Regions from separate parts of the Homo sapiens genome. Here region 1 is linked to region 2. Evidence: fine-mapped expression QTL. A gene starts in region 2. The other region holds a variant in brackets. All regions are shown on one strand. Distances are between the middles of the regions. Region 1 overlaps EGFR (epidermal growth factor receptor). Region 2 holds the start of NIPSNAP2 (nipsnap homolog 2).

Region 1 (10,464 bases), 870 kb after region 2:
AAGAGTCTTTTACAGGTCATATTTCTACAGACTCTTATGTTTGAAAGAATGTGGCCCAATGTGGACCATCCAATATCCAAACACCCACGACATCATTCTTTGGTTAGATTTAACTACCACCACCCACAGGCACATCATTCCCTCCCTAAGCATTACCCTTCTGTAGCTCCTTCTAGACCAGCTTTCTTCCTTAGCTTGTGCTTTAAATGAAAATCTGCCAGCTTTTCACTTAGTCTCTGAATGCAATGCTGCAGGTTCATAAATGGTGGATCACATTCTGTAAGGGTATCTTTACAAAAGTATATTACAGGGTGTTAGGAAGGGAGATATATTTGAAGACATATTATGGTTATGCACTTCTGCAATGAGACTGTCTAGTTAACTAAACCATAATATTAATTAAGAAATCAGTTTAAAAAGCAACCCTCCCAAATCCCTTTCCATGTATTAAGCACACAATTCAGATTTGCTCAGAGAGGACACACACTGAAGGGCTTGCAGAGACTGGGAAAGGTCATCAACTTCATAAATGGATGCTCTCAAAGTTCACCAACAGAGGATGCCTCAAAGAAGGGGAGGACATTCGGAAGCAGCTCACCCTCCTGAGGAAGAAAATACTGAAACTGCACTAAGAGTTCTGATGCAAAAAGATAATTCATGACCCATATGGGGAGTCTATTCTTATATCTTTCTCCATCTTCCCAAACTCCCCAAACTTCTTCAAAGGAAGAAGAAACTATACAGAAGTATTTTTAAAATCTACAGAAGTCAAAGCACGTGGCCTTCTTATTACATTGTCTGAAATGTTCCTCTTTCAAAGATGTTAAGGACTGCAGAATCTGCAAGATTTAATTTTTCCCTCTCCTCCATGCTTTAAACAAAATCTGATTTCACCATCTAGCTAGGTATATCAACCAACAGTTACATAGTGTGCCTCCTGAGAATGTTTATCAGGAGTTTTAAAAAAATTTTTAAAATTTCTATTTAAGATATATAAATGAACAGATACTTAGATAAACATACACATTATACATGTGGTATATAAATTTCATTGCTTAATTCTGACCCTAAAGAGTTGAAAAATGTTTTTTCCAAAAAGCATTTTGACGCAAACATCAGGGGAAAACCATATATTGTTAACATTACTTTTGGTAAAAAAAATTGTTACATTGTTTTGCTGAAATCTTATTCTTTTGACGAGCTGGGCCACCAAGAAGCAGCAGACGCTGCAGTTCAGTGTGCATGTCCAAGTCCAGTTCAACTTAGTGAGTGAACAATATGCAAAGAGCAATGTGTTAGCTGCTTTTAAAGCAGAGTTGAGTTAGACATAGTCCTTCACCTGGAGAGCATGGCTCAGGTAAGATGAGCCAGACAGACCAGGAGAATGTGGAGTGGAGTGCCCTGCTGGAGGTCGAAGGTGGCTGGGGTTCCTGGAGGGAGCAAAGCCATCTGGCTGAGAGATGGGGAGAGGAATTTGGAAATGTCCTTGGAGATTAATCTTGAGGGGCAGGTGGGAATCTTTCCAGTAGGGGTCTTACAGGTGGGAGTGGGGAGCTGAGGCTCTGGGTGAGGGAAGGTGGTGATGAGTGGGGGTGGGTCACATAAGTGGGCTTCTGTGGAGCACAGGGACCTGCAGGGCAGAGGCAGGGAACACGTTCAGAGAGGTTTTCAGAGCCACACAGTGACAGGCTTTAATGCCAGAGTGACAAGTTTGATGGAAACTGAGGGTTTTAGTCAAGAGAATGTCATGATCTGAGCCGAGCTTCGATACAGAGTTTCCCGACATAGCACAACCTCTTCCCCTCACCACGTGATCCAAGGCTTCTGGGCTGCGTGGAAAAGGGATGGGAAGAAATTAAGTCAAAATTGCTGAACCTCCGTTGCTCAACCTTAGAAAATCCTAGAATACACAGTATGCTGTGGAGAACTGTTGACAGGCAAACTTGTTCTAAGTTTCAAAATGGGAAAGAAGATGGAGATATTATAAATACCTATCTCAGGAAAAAATATAGACAGTTTAAAAAAGTTGCTGTATGTGCATGTACAGACAGACTTGTTACTCCTAAATGCAGGTCATGTGTGGCTAACCTGTTTCATAGCTGGGCAGTACTACAAAGCGGACAGGTCAGGGCAGCAGCCTCAGCCAATGCTGTGCCCGGACGCAGCATGTGCGGCAAGTTTCTCCTGATTCAACTGCACCTTAAAAGGAAGTATGCAGGCTGGCTGATAGGATTTCATGGATTCGTGACAGGTTAAAAAAAGCACAGTGATAAGAGGATGGATTTCTCAGTAGGTGAGAATTAAAATGGTGTTAAAATACAGAACTCAGCCTCGCTCCACATCCTCACGGTAATTCAGTAAATAGAGCGACAGAAAGAACACGGGGAAATGCTGGAGCAGAACTGTGTCTGTACCGATGGCATATCACATCTGAGTGTACCTCAGTAAGCTGGAAGGAAGTGCTGAGAACAGTAGGAACTGCAAAAGGAACAAATGACGAGGACTTAGGTCCCAAAGCCCAGTGACGCAAGCGTAAAGTCTGGTGGACAGGACAGGGCAGGCTTCCTCGAGTTTCCAGTCTTCCTGGATACCTTCTGCCCGGGCCCCTTGTTCACATCTGGCAGCCCTTGCAGAGGTTGTCAGAAGGAGCAGAGTTGTCAGAGGGTTGCTCGGAGGAGGCTGCTCAGCCGCGGGAGGAGAAGAATCAGCTGTCTGCAAGCCCAAGGCCAGCACGAGGAGAAACAGTTTTGTGTGGTGGAAAAGCACCAGGTAAAGGTGAGGCAGGGACGCCGACACTGGTATTCACAGCAGCAATTTTTTATGACAGTTTAAAGAAAAATTGTTGGAACTGTCAAAAAAATGGAGCATATTGCCTCTGGCAGTGGCAAGTTCCCTGTCATCCAAGTGTTCAATTGACTTCAGGGCCCCGCCAGCCCTCCAAGACTAACAGTGATGTGTGACGTGAGGCTTGGCAGCTGACTCTGGATAGAGCCTCCGAGTGGCTCAGGTGGCCGGCTTCCTGTCTGCGTGTCCCAGGAGTGGCCCACCCCAAGGACGGCGTGTGGAGATGACAATGAGGCCTTGGCAGGCGTGGGTCTCCAGCACGGTGCTCCACCCAGGGCGGAAGTGGAGGTCCCCTTTCAAAGCCTTGGGTGACCACAGCTTTGAGCAGGGTCACTCTGCAGTAAACAGCTGCAGTAGCTCTTAGATAACTTAGAAAACAGACCTCTCGTAGGGGAAGAATTTCCTGCAGACATTTCTCCCTCGAGGGCCTCCCACCCACCTCAGAGGCTGCACCCAAATCCTGAGGATCTGGCAAGAACCATGTTTTTGAGATGTAATTAATACAACTGTTTACACACAGCATCTGCTGGGGCAGAGATGGCGGTTGTGTGCAAGCCACAGCTGTGATTGGAGCAATCTGATGACAGTGAGCTCATGGTGTCCCCAAGGAGGCCTTTGTGAAGTGCCTGACATAATTAAAATTGGGAGGAAAACTAGGTCAGGTGACCCAGGGTGGTTTAGGTGAAAGGGCTTCAGAGCTCCCAGCTCTGCCCATTCCCTGGGCACTGTCAGGCATCGTAGAAAGGATGCGTGCTGAAAGGCAAAGCCACCACAGTCTCCGCTGAGGAGCAGTGCCTCAGAGATGCTGAGAGATGCTGCTTTCCATTCAGAGTGGCCACCACTGACATCTCTGACAAGACTGGCGGCAGTCTGCTGGCTGGGTCTCTCAGAACAAAAATTTAAAAAAGGATTGAAACCATAAGATGCAGCCCCCCTTGTATTATCTGTAAACACCAGCACATTTGATGCATCGGTTCTGTCTCAGATTTCAAATTCAATTCATTAGCCTATCCTTTTCCATTAAAAAGTTTCCACTTACAGTGTTGAGAATTGGGCCCCTTTCTTTTTTTTTTTTTAATTGCACATCTGTTCACAGAGGTTGGCAAAAGACACTGGAAGTGATTGTGAAATCCACATTGTGATTCCTCAGGAATCAGATCCTAGAAGGGGGTGCCCAGAGCTGTCGGCACACCGTCCCAGGAGTCTGCCTGTGCAGCTCCCAGCCAGGCAAGAAGCCCTGAAGGCAGAGTCCCAGGTGGACACAGCTGGACGCCTCTCTGACAATGGTGGCTCTGGTGGTGAACCCCTCGGTGTCTCTTCTGCACCTCTCAAGGCTGCAAAGTGCCAAATACTCTTTTCCAACCAGCTCCCGAATTCCCCCCTCCATCTGGGACTGCATGTCCTGCTTAGCGATTTCAAGCAATGATTTCACCTTTTCATAGACAAGGACATTGTCCTCATCAGGGCTTGCACCATCACTCTGATTTCCAATGCTGACAGCCAAGTGGAGGTTTTTAATTCTTAAAAGAATGTGGCATTAAAAAGAAAAACTCACCCATCTCATGGTCTAAAATAAAGCAAAACAAGTCAGATGGCTCTGCCTAACCCAGCACAGCATCTGTTACATAATCTGAAACTTCTGTGTAATTGAGTGAGATGTGGGAGAACTCAAGCACAGTCTTTGTAGCATTCTGGGCATGGAATCCTGATCCGTTAATTCCAGAGACTGAATCAACAGAGGAACACAGAGAAAGCCACCACCACGATGTGTGAAAAGGAGAGATACGAGAGAGCACACAGAGGGCTGTTTTAGAAATTGATTTTCATCTTCTGTTTGAGGCCCTGGGAAAAGAGTGAGAGAGTAGAGGGAAAACATGGACGTTTATGAAGAGCTGCCAGAGGCCAGGTTCTCATCACTTTCCAGGGCCTCTCAGGAGAGGCCACCTGAGGCTCCTGTCTGACTCCCCACTGCTTCGAAATCAGAAGACTCGGGGAGTCAGAATCAAATCACTTAATTAGCTCACAGACAACACTGGACACCTTTTAGGGTTTACTGGTTCACATACTATTTCAACTACTTTGTTGAATCTTTTTAACAAGTGGAGGAAACTGAAGCCTTGAATCACAAAAGGCTGGCAGTGTGGAGGGCCAGGTTTGCCTGTTCTTACTATCTGTTTGATGACAAGACAAATTAGTTATTTTATTTTTATATTGCCGGAGTAACTTGTTCTTTGAAGCAAAATTAGAATTATAGATAAGCAAACAGAAAAAATACTTAACAACAATATGCATACAGTACTTATATTTCTCAGGATTCTTTTTATGCATACGTAGTAAACAGGTATATTTATTTACAAAAGTGAGATTTTACTGCACATAATTTCTGATGCCTTAAGGTTTTTTTTTCATTTAACAACATATAGTAAAGTTTTTTAAAGCAAATATTTATCCAAAAATACATTTTACTGGCTGAAGAGTATTTCATTCTATGGAGTTGCCATCACGTCTCTGAGCAGTTCCTGACTGTGGGAAGGTCATGCGTGCTGTCGGGTCAGACCACCCTCAGGAGAGAGCAGTTCTCCCCAGTCCCCCTAGCCC[C/T]ATCCCTGCCAGTCCTGGCTGCCGAAGGCTGCAAATTAGTTATTTGGAGAAACACAGGCTATTTAGGTTTTGAAAAAATCAGTGAGCTTTCAGTTTCTAACGAAGCTACCAACACCCTCATTTTTTCCCTGTCTTTATGGTCTGCAACCAGATGGAGGCTAAGGATAAAGATTATTTTCTCCATCAACTACACTGTCAGGCAAAGCAACTCTGGGGTCTGTATGAGAGGAAATATGGATTTTATTTATGTTAGCAGTAGTTACTGTTGTGAGGCACTATTTGAGTATTTTTCATTATATTTTAATTTTTTTGAACTTCCTATGATAAAACCATCTACACTTTTCTAAGTAGGAAAAATAAGGGAATGAGTGTCATGTTTTTAAAAATTTGGGGAAAGATCAAGAGTACAGAAGAGCATGGGGCAAAAAAGAAGTTTAGGTGCATTTAGGTGACATCAATAAAGCCCAGTTCTTTTTTTTTTTTGACAAATGGGATCATCCTATAGACATTGTTAGGCAAATTACAGAATCTATCTGCGCTGTCCCTAGTTGGGCACAACATGCTCCATGGCAATCTGTCTTGCTGCTGTGCAGTCCTTCCCTGGGTGGCTGCAGGGGCAGACACAGGGTTTGTAGGTCCTGGGTCTTATAGAAATCAGGTACAAAGTGACACGTATATTTAGAAGGAGAAATTGCACAAATGAGACAAAATGTTTTCCTTATGCAAATTTCATAATATAAATTATAGACACTGCCAGTGCACTGTTAGGACTCCCAGGGCCTTGGAAGGGGCTTCAGTATTATTGGCTTTACAATAGATCTGGTCCAGGTGAATGTGCGATGATTTACTTCTCCATTTTCTCTTTGATGGATATTTGGGCTGGTTACAGTTTTATTGTTTCCTATTAAAAAACACTGGGGAATAAGTTTTATGGGGGAGGATTTATCAGCTGAGGTTACTATTGCGATGACTGTGTGACCTTCCCTTCCCCTGTAGATCTGAGAGCATCCAGGCCATTAGGCAAGGAGGATAGAGGAGGCTGGGATTCTGCGTTCCAGGCAGTACTGCCTTGAAGAAGTGCAAAGACACCACCAGAATCACCTGGGGGTGCTTGTGAAAACTGCAGATTCCTGGGCCGTGGAACTGGGGCAAGGCACAGAAATATGTATTTTGACAAACATCCTCAGTGGCTTCCTCACAGGTTAGAATTCTAGAGCCAGTGACTTGGGCTTCAGAAAGAGCACAGGTATGCAGCCTCGGGCAAGCCACAATTTCAATTCAGTCTCCTTACTAGGGAAAGGGAGCCAGGGATATGCGTGTGGAGGACAGGTGAGGAGCTGGGGGGGTAAGGAACGGACAGCACTTTCATTCCACTACTGTAGCTGCATTCCCCAAGCACATGTGCTAGCCTCTGTATTTTAATATAGAACCTCGGCTGCACCTCCCATGACTCCAGGAGGGACCCTGTGCCCTTCCCTGGCTCCAGCAAGGGCACAAACCGCTCTGCGCCTGCGCCCCTGCAAGCTGGCAGGGGCTGACAGGTGCTGTGGCAGGGCCTCTGCTGCAGCGTGAGGGAGCCATGGGTGGGGAGTTTCTTTTCAGTGGGACCAACACGTGTCCACTTCATAAAAGTGGCCGTGCGGCAGTTCCCACAGGGCTGCGTGGCCGGGAACTCCTGGTCAGTCACTTTATTTCAGAGTGGAAAAACATTTTGGCTTCCTAGATCCCTGAGATCCTGACACTTCCTGTCTTCCTAGAAGTAAAATGGCCATAAACAGAACTTATCACAGGTGACCTCTGGCATCGTATCCCCATCGCCTGATGTTATTTTTACAAGGCAGCCGAAAAGATAGCAGGATTTCAAATCTGGCCCTGCCGTTCTGCATTGCATGTGCAGAGGTCTAGTCCACAGGCCGCCACAAAGTTAACTCAGCAGCAAATTTAAACACATGGGGTACACATCACGGAATTCTTAATCATGACCAAGCACCTGGTGAACACAACCGGAGAATTAAAAATCTGAGGTATGTGTATCAGTGTGCCTGAGAAGATTTTGAAGAGAAAAGGCTTAGGTGGGGTCTGGGAATGAGGTAGAAAGGGCTGCAGTTGGAGCCAGAGGGCCTGGGATACGCTTTTGTGCTGAACTCACCTCAAATCGAATCTTCACTTTCTCTTCTATAAAAAGTGGAGAAAAACAAGGCTTCTTTCACTCCTCCTGAACTAGCTAATATTACTTTATCTTTATCTCTTTCTCCTCCTGAACTAGCTAATATTACCTTATCTGCACGTGTGTGCCTGTGTGTGTCTGTGTGTCTCTGTGTGTGCCCGTGTCTGTGTGTATGTCTGTCTGTGTCTGTATCTGTGTCTCTGTGTGTATCTCTGTGTATTGTATGTATGTCTCTCTGTGTGTGACTGTGTGTATCTCTGTGTGTTGTAGGTATGTCTCTGTGTGTCTGTGTGTATCCCTGTGGGCTGTGTGTATGTCTCTCTGTGTGTGTGCCTGTGTGTATCTGTGTGTCTCTGTGAGTGTGTCTCTGTGTGTGCCCATCTGTGCGTATGTCTGTGTGTGTGTGTGTGTGTGTCTGTGTGTATCTCTGTGTGCTGTGTGCGTGTGTCTGTGTGTATTTCTGTGTATTGTGAGCATGTCTGTGTGTAACTCTGTGTGTTGTGTGTATGTGTTTGTATCTGTGTGTGTCTGCATGCAATCCTTTGAGTCTATAATTAATTCTCTCATTGCACATATCAGAGAATTGTGGTTCTAAAGGCGAAACTGGCCCACACTCCCAAGCTGCCCTGGGCAGGGAGCTGTGTGTTGAACCAGGACTGTCTCTCCCAAAGGACAGGGCCTAATTCAGGACCCACTGAAGCAGCTTCAGTAAAATGACTGTGGCACGCCTGCCTGTGAGAAGGCAAATAATGACAATGACAGTAATAACTGTCAACCTCATTGGGCCACTCTCCTCACTTAATCCTCACAACAGTCCAGTATCTTCCCCACTGTACAGAAAAGGATGCTGAGTTTTGAGAGGTTAAGTAACTTGAGCTTTTGAATGTCACATGGTGGAGGGCCAGTCGGACAGCAGAGAAGAGGGAAGGTGACCTGGCTTGCAGGGTTGCTCTGTGTCTTGCGGGACCTGCAGCTTTTCCAGCTTTTGCACTTAGACCAGAGCCCTGCAGGAGTGGCTTGGGCATGAGCTGTGCTAGCGTCAGGGAGAATCCACCTCTGTGTCCTTGCTTTCTTTAAAAGATGAATCTTTTAATCACTTTTATTAGGAGAAATAAAAACCAGCGATAAGAGAGCCCTGACATAAGGCTGCCGGTGCCAGGGATCACCTGGGTTCAGCACCTATGGAGAGGTTTATGGTTGCCGCTGCTGCACTGGGGCCTAACTGCCAAGGTCCAAAATGGTCCAAAATGTTTCTGTTAAATTGTTTTGGGTCTTTCTAGGTTTTAAGAAATATTTGTTTTACCTGCAAAAGAGCAGGATCTGTCTAGAGTCTGTACAGTAAACACAAGTGAAAATGTAATCCCATATCAATTAAGATGTATAGAAATACACCTAAAGCACTATGTATTTATTTCTTTTTACCCTACTTCTCTCAAAGTGGATCTGTGATGTCCATGTAAATGCAAAGTCTTGGAGTATCCAGCATATGTGAAAGGAGAAGTTAGAAAGGAAGTTGCTGGACTGTCTTGTCGTAAATTCCTCTTCTTGTTTTCACTGTGGACTCCTAGTAGAAACCCATGACCCAGATGTTCTCACTCCCTCCTCTGAGGTCACCTGTAATCTCCAACTCAAGGACTCTCCAAAAATCTGTGGATCAACTGCCTACATCTTAGGCCCTTGAAAACGTCTGGGCAACTGCGTCTCCTGACAGGATAGGCCAGTCTCCCCAGATGATCAGTGGGTGGCAGGAGGCTGCACAGTGAGGCCCCCCCTGCCCCCCGACCTGGCAGCCCACAGCTCAGGAAGAGTGCTCTGCAGGCTGCACAAACTTGGCTCTTGCACCAGGCAGCTGCGTGGATGACAGACCAAGAGCTATCTCTCCCAGGATAAGAAGCTGGATGCTGGGTGAAGCCAATTCATTTTTCTCCTCATCAGTCAGTGGAAACTCACTTCCACAGATTGATTTCCAAAGGAATAAATGATATCACCAGATGTCATCCTGTCAAGCAGCCCCCTTCAGAAAAAACTTTTCCTTGGTAATGGGGGAAATTTGACTTCAAGGAGGCAGTACACAGCTGTGTACAATGGGTTTCATCTTTTTACGTTACACACGCTCTACTGTGAGTTCTCAGTGGCTGCACTTCCCATCTCGCCTGCAGCTTTGCCACCATCACAACATAACTGATGCTTTACGAGGCCAATTTCATAGTGTCTGCTGGCACCTCTGCACTCCCTGAGCTACCAGTGACAGTTACGACAGGACCAGCTGGCTAAGCACCTGTGGCATCCAGGCATGATTCAGGCAGCCACACTGCCCGAGAGAAATGTATGGAAGTGAGACCTCGGATCACAGACTAGTTTCATCTCCCTAAATTAAGATAACTCCTTGCAAAACTAAGACAAAACAAAATGCCATCCACCAGCTAAAAGTTTCCATCAAAATTGGAATGAGTCTAAGTGCAGTTTTCACCTCAAAAATGACTTCCTTGTTATTTACAGTCCACAGATATGAACAGAAATGACCATTTCTATGAAAGAAGATTTTATGATAGGAAAGGACAAGGGAAGTAGGGCTGAGGCGCATCACGGTCGGGAGAAGGTCCTCATTCTGTTTACCATCACTGAGGACTGAGACGCGGGGCGAGCGGTGGGGAGGGAGGGCATGAATTCGCTCACACAGTCACCATGCCATTCATTGCTCACTCTACGATACTGATTTTTGGCTATAAATTGGCCACATTAGTGATTCCAAAACGAGGTAGAGTAAAAATGAACAGCACAATTCCCAACACAAAAGCAATTCCATTTTTAAAAAGCACAGAAAAATGATTTTCATCATTTCAAACACGGAAATC
Region 2 (9,172 bases):
GGATTAGGAACCAGTCAAGGTTTGTGTCATAGAGATCTTTCTACTAGGAAAATGTCCGCTTAGAATTCTTTAGACGTGTGGCTGGGCACAATGGCTCACACCTATAATCCTAGAACTTTGGGAGGCGGAGGGTGGGAGGACTGCTTGAGGCCAGGAGTTTGAGACTAGCCTGGGGAACATAGCAAGACCCCCCTCTCTACAAAAAAATTAAAAATTAGCAGCCGGGTGTGGTGATTCATCCCTGTAATGCCAGCACTTTGGGAGGCCGTGGTGGGAGGATCACTTGAGGCCAGGAGTTTGAGACCAGCCTGGGCAACATGGAGAAACCCCATCTCTACTAAAAATACAAAAATTATCCAGGCGTGGTGGTGCACGCCTGTAAGTCCCAGCTGTTCAGGTAGCTGAGACAGGAGAACTGCTTGAACCCAGGAGGTGGAGGTTGCAGGGAGCCGAGATCACGCCACTGAACTCCAGCCTGGGCAACAGAGTGACACTCTGTCTCAAATAAATAAATAAATAAATAAATAAATAAATAATAGCTGGGCATGGTGGTGTGGGCCTGTAGTCCCAGCTACTTGGGAGGCTGAGGTGGGAAGATCCCTTAAGTCCGGAAGGTCAAGGCTGCAGTGAGCCGTGGTCATGCCATTAAACTCCAGCCTGGGCAACAGGGCAAGACTATCTCCAAGGAAAAAAAAAAATTCTTTAGTCATCCCCTTCACTAACAGGTTCGAGCCCACACTCTTCGTAGGAATCCAGACGAGTATTGCTGAGGGTTGAGCTAGGGCAGTGAAGATGGAGAGGGTGGATTCAAGACATACTAGAGGCAGAACTGACAGATTTGGTAAATGATAGATGGCGGGAAAAAGAGGGATGGGCTTGGGGAAGACCATCTGGTGTCTGGCCTGGGCCACCACATGGAAAATGTTTCATGACTGGAGAAGAACAACCAAAGAAAAGCAGGCTTCACAGAAGGAAGAGGAGTTAAATCCTGGGTACAGCAGTGTTTTAAGCACCTGTGAGACACTTATGCAATGTCCAGGAAGCGGCTGGGAATTCCAAGCTTGCTGCTGAGCAGCACTAAGTGAAATACGCTGGCTAATGTACAGGCAGGGATGAGGCTCCCGGGAGGACGCCCTTCTCCCTTGCTGAAACTGATTCAGCAAATCCTGTTTTCTTCTGTCATTTTACCTAACACTTTGGCAGCGGATGGCACTCCCTCCCTCCTCCTGGCCACTGCCACATAACAATGAGCTTGCCAGCTCCCCCTCCTACATTCAGCCTATATACGCTGCACATCCCAGGACTTGCTTTGCAGCCCCTTCTCTCTCCACACTCTCGCCTCAAGCAATCTCACACATTCCTATATTTTTTTGTTTGTTTTATTTTGGAGACAGGGTCTGGCTCTGTCACCTAGGCTGGAACGCAGTGGCATGATCTCGGCTCACTGCAACCTCCACCTCCCAGGTTCAAGCCATACTCCCACCTCAGCCTACCAAGTAGCTGGGACTACAGGCGTGTGCCACCATGCCGGGCTAATTTTTGTATTTTTTGTAGAGATGTGTTTTGTCATGTTGCCTGGGATGGTCTCGAACTCCTGAGCTCAAGCGATCAGCCCAGCTCGGCCTCCCAAAGTGCTGGGATTACAGCCTGAGCCACTGCACCCGGCTTCCTATGGTTTAAAAAAAGTTTCATTATACAAATTTTTATTTATGTACTTATTTATTATTAGGGACAGAGTTCCACTATGTTGCCCAGGCTGGTCTCAAACTCCTGGGCTCAAGCAATCCTCCTGCCGCAACCTTCCAAAGTGCAGGGATTACAAGTGTGAGTCACTGCGTCCAGGCTTTATTATGAAAAACGTAAATCAAATACGAAACAGTATAATGAAATCCATGTGTCTATTAACATTTAGCATTCCTATATACTGACAACTCCTAAATGTTACCTGTAGCCCAGACACCTCCTTTGAGGAGTCATACTGCCAACTGTCTGTTTGCGTTTCCACTTGAATAGCACACAGCCTTCACAAACTTTACCAGGTCCTAAACTGCTCTGAATTCTTCTTCCCCAGCCCTCCTGAATTACTGGTAAGCTCCGGATGGCCTTGGACGCCTTATTCACTGATGTCTCTCAACAGTCAACAGTGCCTGGCACGTGGTAGGCACTCACATTTTGGCAGAACAGCTCTCTGCAAACTCTCAACTCTCAGTGCCAGGGTCCACTCAGCTGGCCACTACCCTTAATTCTGCCCCCTCTCCCAAGTCAGACTCATCTTTTTAAAAAGATCAGGCCGCGCCTGGTGATTCACGACTGTAATCCCTGCACTTTGGGAGGCCGCGGCAGGTGGATCACCTGAGGTCAGGAGTTCGAGATCAGCCTGACCAACATGGTGAAACCCCGTCTCTACTAAAAATACAAAAATTAGCCGGGTGTGGTGGTGCATGCCTGTAATCCCAGCTACTTGGGAGGATGAGGCAGGAGAATTACTTGAACCCGGGAGGCGGAGGTTGCAGTGAGACAAGATCGTGCCGTTGCACTTCAGCCGGGGCAACGAGAGCAAAACTCCGTCTCAAAAATATAAATAAATAAACAACAACAATAATAATAATAATAAACCATGTTACTGAAACCTCCCTGGCCCATGGCGAGTTTAACACACAGTTCCTTAGGTAATTTAAACTACCCAAAGCAATGAATACGAGAAAGCAACTCTGGGTAAGTCAGGATAGGCTTTGCTGTTTGAATGTGGAAAACAGCACATGCAAATATCAAGGTGATGAATTTGGACAACCAAACGTCCAATCCACTGAAGTTAGAAAAAAAAAAAAGTTTAAACAAGAGCCCCACGCCTGAACTTAGTGCTGATAACTCTAAGTACTTTTAGATCCACGGCCGGCTTTAAATTTCAACTCCAAGACGTTAAGTGATTTGACCTCCTCCAAGCTCTAACTTCCCCTACGCTCCGCGGAGAGCTGGCCCGGGACAATGCTTTACTCTTTTATTCCCTACTCCCGGCACCTCAGAGACCAGGGTCACCAACGTCCTCGGCAGACGCAGCCACTCAGGCTTGGAACAGCCTCCGGCGAGGACCCAGCAGACGGCGTCCGGGGCCTGCGGCCTCAGGCGCGCGCTGTCCCTGTCCCTGGCCACGGGTCGCGCCGGTCAGGGCCCTGCAGGCCGGGCCAGCGCCGCGGGGAGGATGTGGCCTCCGGGCCAAGCCTCGGGGGCCTTCCCGGGCGAGGGTGGAGCCGCAGAGCGGCCCGTCCCCTCCGTGACCTTGAGCCCGAGGACGCCCCGACCCCGCCCCAGCTCCGGCCCCACCCCAGCTCCGGCCCCACTGCCCCGAGGCCGGGCAGCCACCCGCGCTGGGGACAGGGCCGGGGCGGAGACCGGCGCCGGGAAACCCGCGCCCTCCGCCTCGCGGCGGCCCCTCCCCGGCACCTCCCGGGAAGGGCGGCGCTGCTCACCGGAGCCTGGGCAGGAGGCTGCAGGGGGCCGCCCGCTGCAGGAGGCCGCCGGCCCAGGCCGCTCCGCGGGCGCGCAGCACTCGCGCCGCCATCTTGCTCGGCGCCTCGGCTCCCACCGCCCGGGCGCCGCCGCTGACGCCGCCGCCGCGCGACCCCTCCCCCGGCCGGGCCCCAACGCGGCCACTGCAGTGCGGGGCGCGGCCGCCAGGGGGAGCAGGGCGCGCGGCCGCGGGGGTCGGCGGGGCGTCCAGGCGCCAAGGCCCGGCCGCTGCGGGAAAGCGCGAAGCCCAAGCGCAGTCAGTGCAAGCCGATCACTTCAGCGGGAGGAGCTCGGTGCCCAGAAGCGCGGGTGCAGAAGGGACAAGGGCATAACTTCAATGATCAGGGAAAACTCCAAAAGGAAAGAGTAACACTGTGCCTAGGGGAATCCAGGGCCTGGGGCGGGGCAGTGGCAGTGGGTTTACCCCCACCCCACCCCGCCAATGTCTTTTAAATTTTGTAGTATATGAATATATTGTCATTTCAAAAAGCCCCACAACGCTTTAACAAGTGCATTCTGGGGCCGGACGCAATAGCTCACGCCTGTCATCCCAGCACTTTGGGAGGCTGAGGCCGGAGATCTCTTGAGGCCAGGAGTTCGAGACCAACCTGGGCAACATAGCGAGCCCTCACTGTGCAAAAACATTTTTAAATTAGCCGGGCATGGAGGAGCACGTCTGTGATGCCAGCTACACTGGAGACTGAGGCAGAAGGATCGCTTGAGTTCAGGAGGTGGAGGCTGTAGTGAACTATGATCGTGCCACTGCACTCCAGCCTGGGCAAACACACGACGTCCTGTAGCGAAAGAAAGAAAGAGAGAAAGAGAGAGAAAGAAAGGGAGGGAAAGGAAGGAAGGAAGGAGAAAGAAAGGAGGAAGGAAGGGAGGCAGGAGAAAGAAAGGAGGGAAGGAAGGAGAAAGAAAGGAAGGGAGGGAGGCAGGAGAAAGAAAGAAAGAGAGAAAGGAAAAGAAAAGAAAGCAAGTGAGGAAAAAATTAAAAAACACCATACACACACAAAAAAAATTAAGGAGAAAGGACTGGGAAGGTTCTCTTGAGGTCTTGGGACTGCATCGTTCCCATTCATTTCAGCACCGGTGGGCACTGGCCATGGGGAGTCCTTGGTACCTTACCCTCAAGGCCGTCTGGGTCTAGTGGGGACAGAATGTACAATGATGATTGGACCGAGTGTGTTAAGTGTCAAAATGGACAGGTTCATGAGACACGAAAGAGGCACGGAAAGAGAGCATGTAACCGGGGGTGGCTGTGAATTAGAGGATAGATGGGGAGAAAGTTCTCCAAGGAGCTGGCAGGACATATCAGTCCCAGGGGAAGAAGGGAGGGCATCCCTGTCTTGAGGAAATAACTTAAGCAAAGGCGTGGATCTGGGTGGCTGGCGCTATAGAGGGAAAAATGTGTCCTCCAGGAAGATTTTTTAAAAAGCCACAAATGAGCCAGGCACGGTGGCTCACGTCTGTAATCCCAGCACTTCGGGTGGCCGAGGCGGGCGGATCACCTGAGGTCAGGAGTCCGAGACCAGCCTGGCCAATATGGTGAAATCCCATCTCTACAAAAATACAAAAATTAGGCAGGCATGTTGTCGGGTGCCTGTAATCCCAGCTACTCGAGAGGCTGAAGTGGGAGAATTGCTTGAACCTGGGAGGTGGAGGGTGCAGTGAGCCGAGATTGTGCCTCTGCACTCCAGCCTGGGCAACAGAGTGAGACTCCATCTCAAAAAAAAAAAGAAAAGAAAAAGAAAAAAGCCACAAATATAACCATGAAAACTGCAACCAAGGTGAGGGCAGGAGGAAGGAAGCTGGACCCTGGGGGTGGGGGAGAACCTGGGAGAAGTAGGGGCTCTGGCCACCAAAGGGAGCATTTCCAGGCCAGTGCGGGGCTGCAGAGGCAGAGAGGAAAGTGCCCTCAGGACTGGGTTGCTTGGAGGTCATAAGGTGGACAAAAACTGGGAGGTTCCCTGAAGCTGGTAATCTTGGGGGCCAAGGGAGCATCAGGGCTCAAGGGGTGCAGTTTTCTGACTGGGGTAGAATTTGAACACGTTAATATGGCAAGGAGCCACCAGGGAGGACAGAGGTGGACCCTGTGGATGGAGGAGGGCTTTGCCCCAGAGCAGGGAAAGGCACCTGTCCCTTGGAGGCCAGTGGGATGGAGGCCAAGGGACACAAGGATAGGAGGCCAGAGGCTGTGTGGCTGAGGACCTCCTGGCCTCAACTAGTGTATGCTTAGTAAAGCTGTGGAGAACCCTGTAAGAAGTACTTTTTAAGTGGTCCATTTTCAGAAAACAGACAAGTCTGGGCAGTTCCCTTGTGGATGTGACAAGATGCACGGGTACAGACATCTGGGAAGAGTGATAAAACTCACAGAAGTCAGAGGGGAGGGAGAAAAGTGGCAGGGGTGTCTAATCCATAAAAGGAAAGAAAGCTTAGCCATTGGGAAATCGAAACTTCAAGTAGGGAAGAGGACAAGATGTAACCTAATAAGGGGATAATGGAACTTAGGTGATGTCCAGGAAGACTGCAACCCCATATTACTCAGCCTGTGAGGAACTGGGGAGGGACCTGTGCTCTAGGGGATAAATTGTTGAAACTGCACTGGGTGTGCCTGCCCATCACACATCCGATCTTGCAAAACCATTATTAAAAAGTCTTACTTTTGTCCGGGTGCGGTGGCTCATGCCTATAATCCCAGCATTTTGGGGGGCTGAGGCTGGTGGATCACCTGAGGTCAGGAGTTCAAGACCAGCCTGGCCAACATGGTGAAACCCCATCTCTACTAAAAATACAAAAATTAGCCGGGTGTGGTGGCGCATGCCTGTAATCCTAGCTACTCGGGAGGCTGAGGCAGGAAAATCACTTGAACCTGGGAGATGGAGATTCACCTGGGAGGTGATCTCAGCTCAGCAATGAGCTGAGATCGCACTGCTGCACTCCAGCCTCAGTGACAGATCAAGACAGACTCTCAAAAAAAAAAAAAAGTCTCACTTTCACTGTTCTTCATGCCTCTAAGTCCATTCTTTGGGTTTGAATGGGTGAGTGTGTTTCTCACACTCCAAAGAGAGGCAGAAGTGAGCTCTCTCCAGGGTATCAAGGACTTGGCCCAGCCCTACAGAGCAGGAGGCCAGGCCTCTTTAAGGGTGGATGAGCTCCTGTGACTGTCACAAATGCCCCCAATTTCTCAGCTCTGTTTCATGAGACACCTGCTTTTAAATTTATTCTGAAATATAAACTGTAGCTAGACACTTCTTTGCTGACCTTGCTTTTGTGTTTAGTATTAGCCTGCTTAGCCTGCATTGCTTTTCTCCACTATCATTTTGTTGTGGAGTTCCATTCACTCAGGACTTTTTACTGGGGAAAAAGAGGGTACTCTGATTTCACAGCTGTGTGGCTTCAGATATTTGAAGCCATAGAATAAACATAGCAAGTCTTCCTGGAGCATAAGTTTTATACAAAGACTCTCAGGAAAAAGTATGTGTTAAAATATAAACAAGTATCATTTATATGTTAACATTTCAGTGGTACTTAGGTATAATTTATATTTTAATACTTCGATGGTACTTAAGTATCATTTCTATTTTAATACTTGAATGATACTTAGGTATCACTTATATTTTAATGCTTCAATGGTACTTAGGTATCATTCATATTTTAATACTTCAATGGTACTTATACATCATTTATATTTTATTTTATTTTTTATTTTTTTGAGATGGAGTCTCACTCTTGTCACCCAGACTGGAGTGCAGTGGCACGATCTTGGCTGACTGCAACCTCCGCCTCCCAGGTTCAAGCGATTCTCCTTGAGAATCTGCCTCAGTCTCCTGAGTAGCTGGGATTACATGTGTGCACCACCACGCCCCGGCTAACTTTTGTATTTTTAGTAGAAATGGGGTTTCACCGTGTTGGTCAGGCTGGTCTCCAACTCCTGATCTCATGATCCGCCTGCCTCAGCCTCCCAAAGTGCTGGGATTACAGGCGTGAGCCACCACGCCTGGCCATCATCATTTATATTTTAATCCTTTGATGGTACTTAGGTACTATTTATATTTTCACATGCTTTTAATTTTATATTTATACTTTAATACTTCATTGGTACTTAAGCATCATTTATATTTTAACATATTTATAAATGATGCTTATTTATAAATGTTTAAATATTTAAACCTTTAAAATATTTTAGAGACGGCTTGGACTCCATCCCAGAGCTGGTGACACATGTGTCACCATATGCTAGGAGCACCACTTGGAGACGTCTGATGCTTTATTTTTAATTTTTTTTTTAATTTTAAGTTCTGGGATACATGTGTAGAACATGCAGGTTTGTTACATAGGTATACATGTGCCATGGTGGTTTGCTGCACCTATCAACCCATCATCTATGTTTTAAGCCCCATATGCATTAGGTATTTGTCCTAATGGTCTCCCTTCCCTTGCCCCAACAGGCCCCGGTGTGTGATGTTCCTCGCCCTGTGTCGATGTGTTCTCATTGTTCAACTCCCACTTGAGTGAGAACATGCAGTGTTTGGTTTTCTGTTCCTGTGTTAGTTTGCTGAGAATGATGGTTTCCAGCTTCATCCATGTCCCTGTAAAGGACATGAACTCATTCTTTTTAATGGCTGCATAGTATTCCATGGTGTATATGTGTCACATTTTCTTTATCCAGTCTATCATTGATGGGCATTTGGGTTGGTTCCAGGTCTTTGCTATTGTAAGTAGCGCTGCAATAAACATATGTGTGCATGTGTATTTATAGTAGAATGATTTATAATCCTTTGAGTACATACCCAGTAATGGGATTGCTGGATCAAATGGTATTTCTGGTTCTAGATTCTTGAGGAATCGCCACACTGTCTTCCACAATGGTTGAACTAAGGTGATCTTTTTTTTTAAGCTGCTTATTAGTGATATGTACTCTCAAAGCAAAAACAGCCAAGCATGTTATTTTCACAGATATCAGACTACACAAGTGTGTTTTCAAAATCTCTGGTTACTCCTTGGGTTTCTAACCCTTCCCCTCAACTGTGTAGATGGTATTCTGGTGTTTTCTTGAACTTTCTATCACAGAGAAAAAGCCAGGGTCAGTCTGATTTTCATTCAGTTCTAAGTACTTTTCTCAGATCCTGGAATGGTTTGAAGTTTTCCAGCATTTCAATACATATTTTGCCAGGATATGTCTATGTGAGGATCTCTTTTTATAGAACATGATTTTTCTAAAGGTCAAGAAAAAATGTTTTCTATTTCTTTTTTTCATTAGTTTGTTGTTTTTGTTCTACTCTATTCTGAAAAATGTATTATATTTATATTGGAGTTTTAAAATTCAGTCTCACAGAACTATCATTCTCGTTACTTTCATTTCTTTATCCTTTTCCTCTACATTCTTAGAGAACTTCTGAAGCGTATTCTTACTATCACTGATTTGACTTTTCTTTTCTTTTTTTTTTTGAGACAGAGTCTCGCTCTGTTGCCCCGGCTGGAGTGCAGCGGGGTGATCTTGGCTCACTGCAACCTCCGCTTCCCAGGTTCAAGCGATTCTCCTGCCTTAGTCTCCTGAGTAGCTGGGATTACAGGCGCGCGCCCTCATACCCGGCTAATTTTTGTATTTTTAGTAGAGACGGGGTTTCACCATTTTGGCCAGGCTGGTCTCGAACTCCTGACC

Evidence for each region. PIP is the estimated chance that this variant, and not a neighbour inherited with it, causes the effect.
Region 1: its variant is fine-mapped to the expression of NIPSNAP2 in lymphoblastoid cells (GTEx, PIP 0.96).

The regions. Positions count from the first base shown.
Region 1 is chr7:55,093,282-55,103,745 of GRCh38, reverse strand. All of the region lies in intron 1 of EGFR (epidermal growth factor receptor), which reads right to left. Among named protein-coding and RNA genes, the nearest start is that of EGFR, 79 kb to the right of the region's middle. The variant C/T (reference allele first, on the strand shown) is at 5,443.
Region 2 is chr7:55,958,997-55,968,168 of GRCh38, reverse strand. It overlaps NIPSNAP2 (nipsnap homolog 2), which reads right to left and starts at 3,584. Exons shown (of 10, transcript NM_001483.3): 1 at 3,468-3,584. The coding sequence starts at 3,559. RefSeq lists enhancers at 2,542-3,275, 3,845-3,924 and silencers at 3,045-3,524, 3,585-3,694.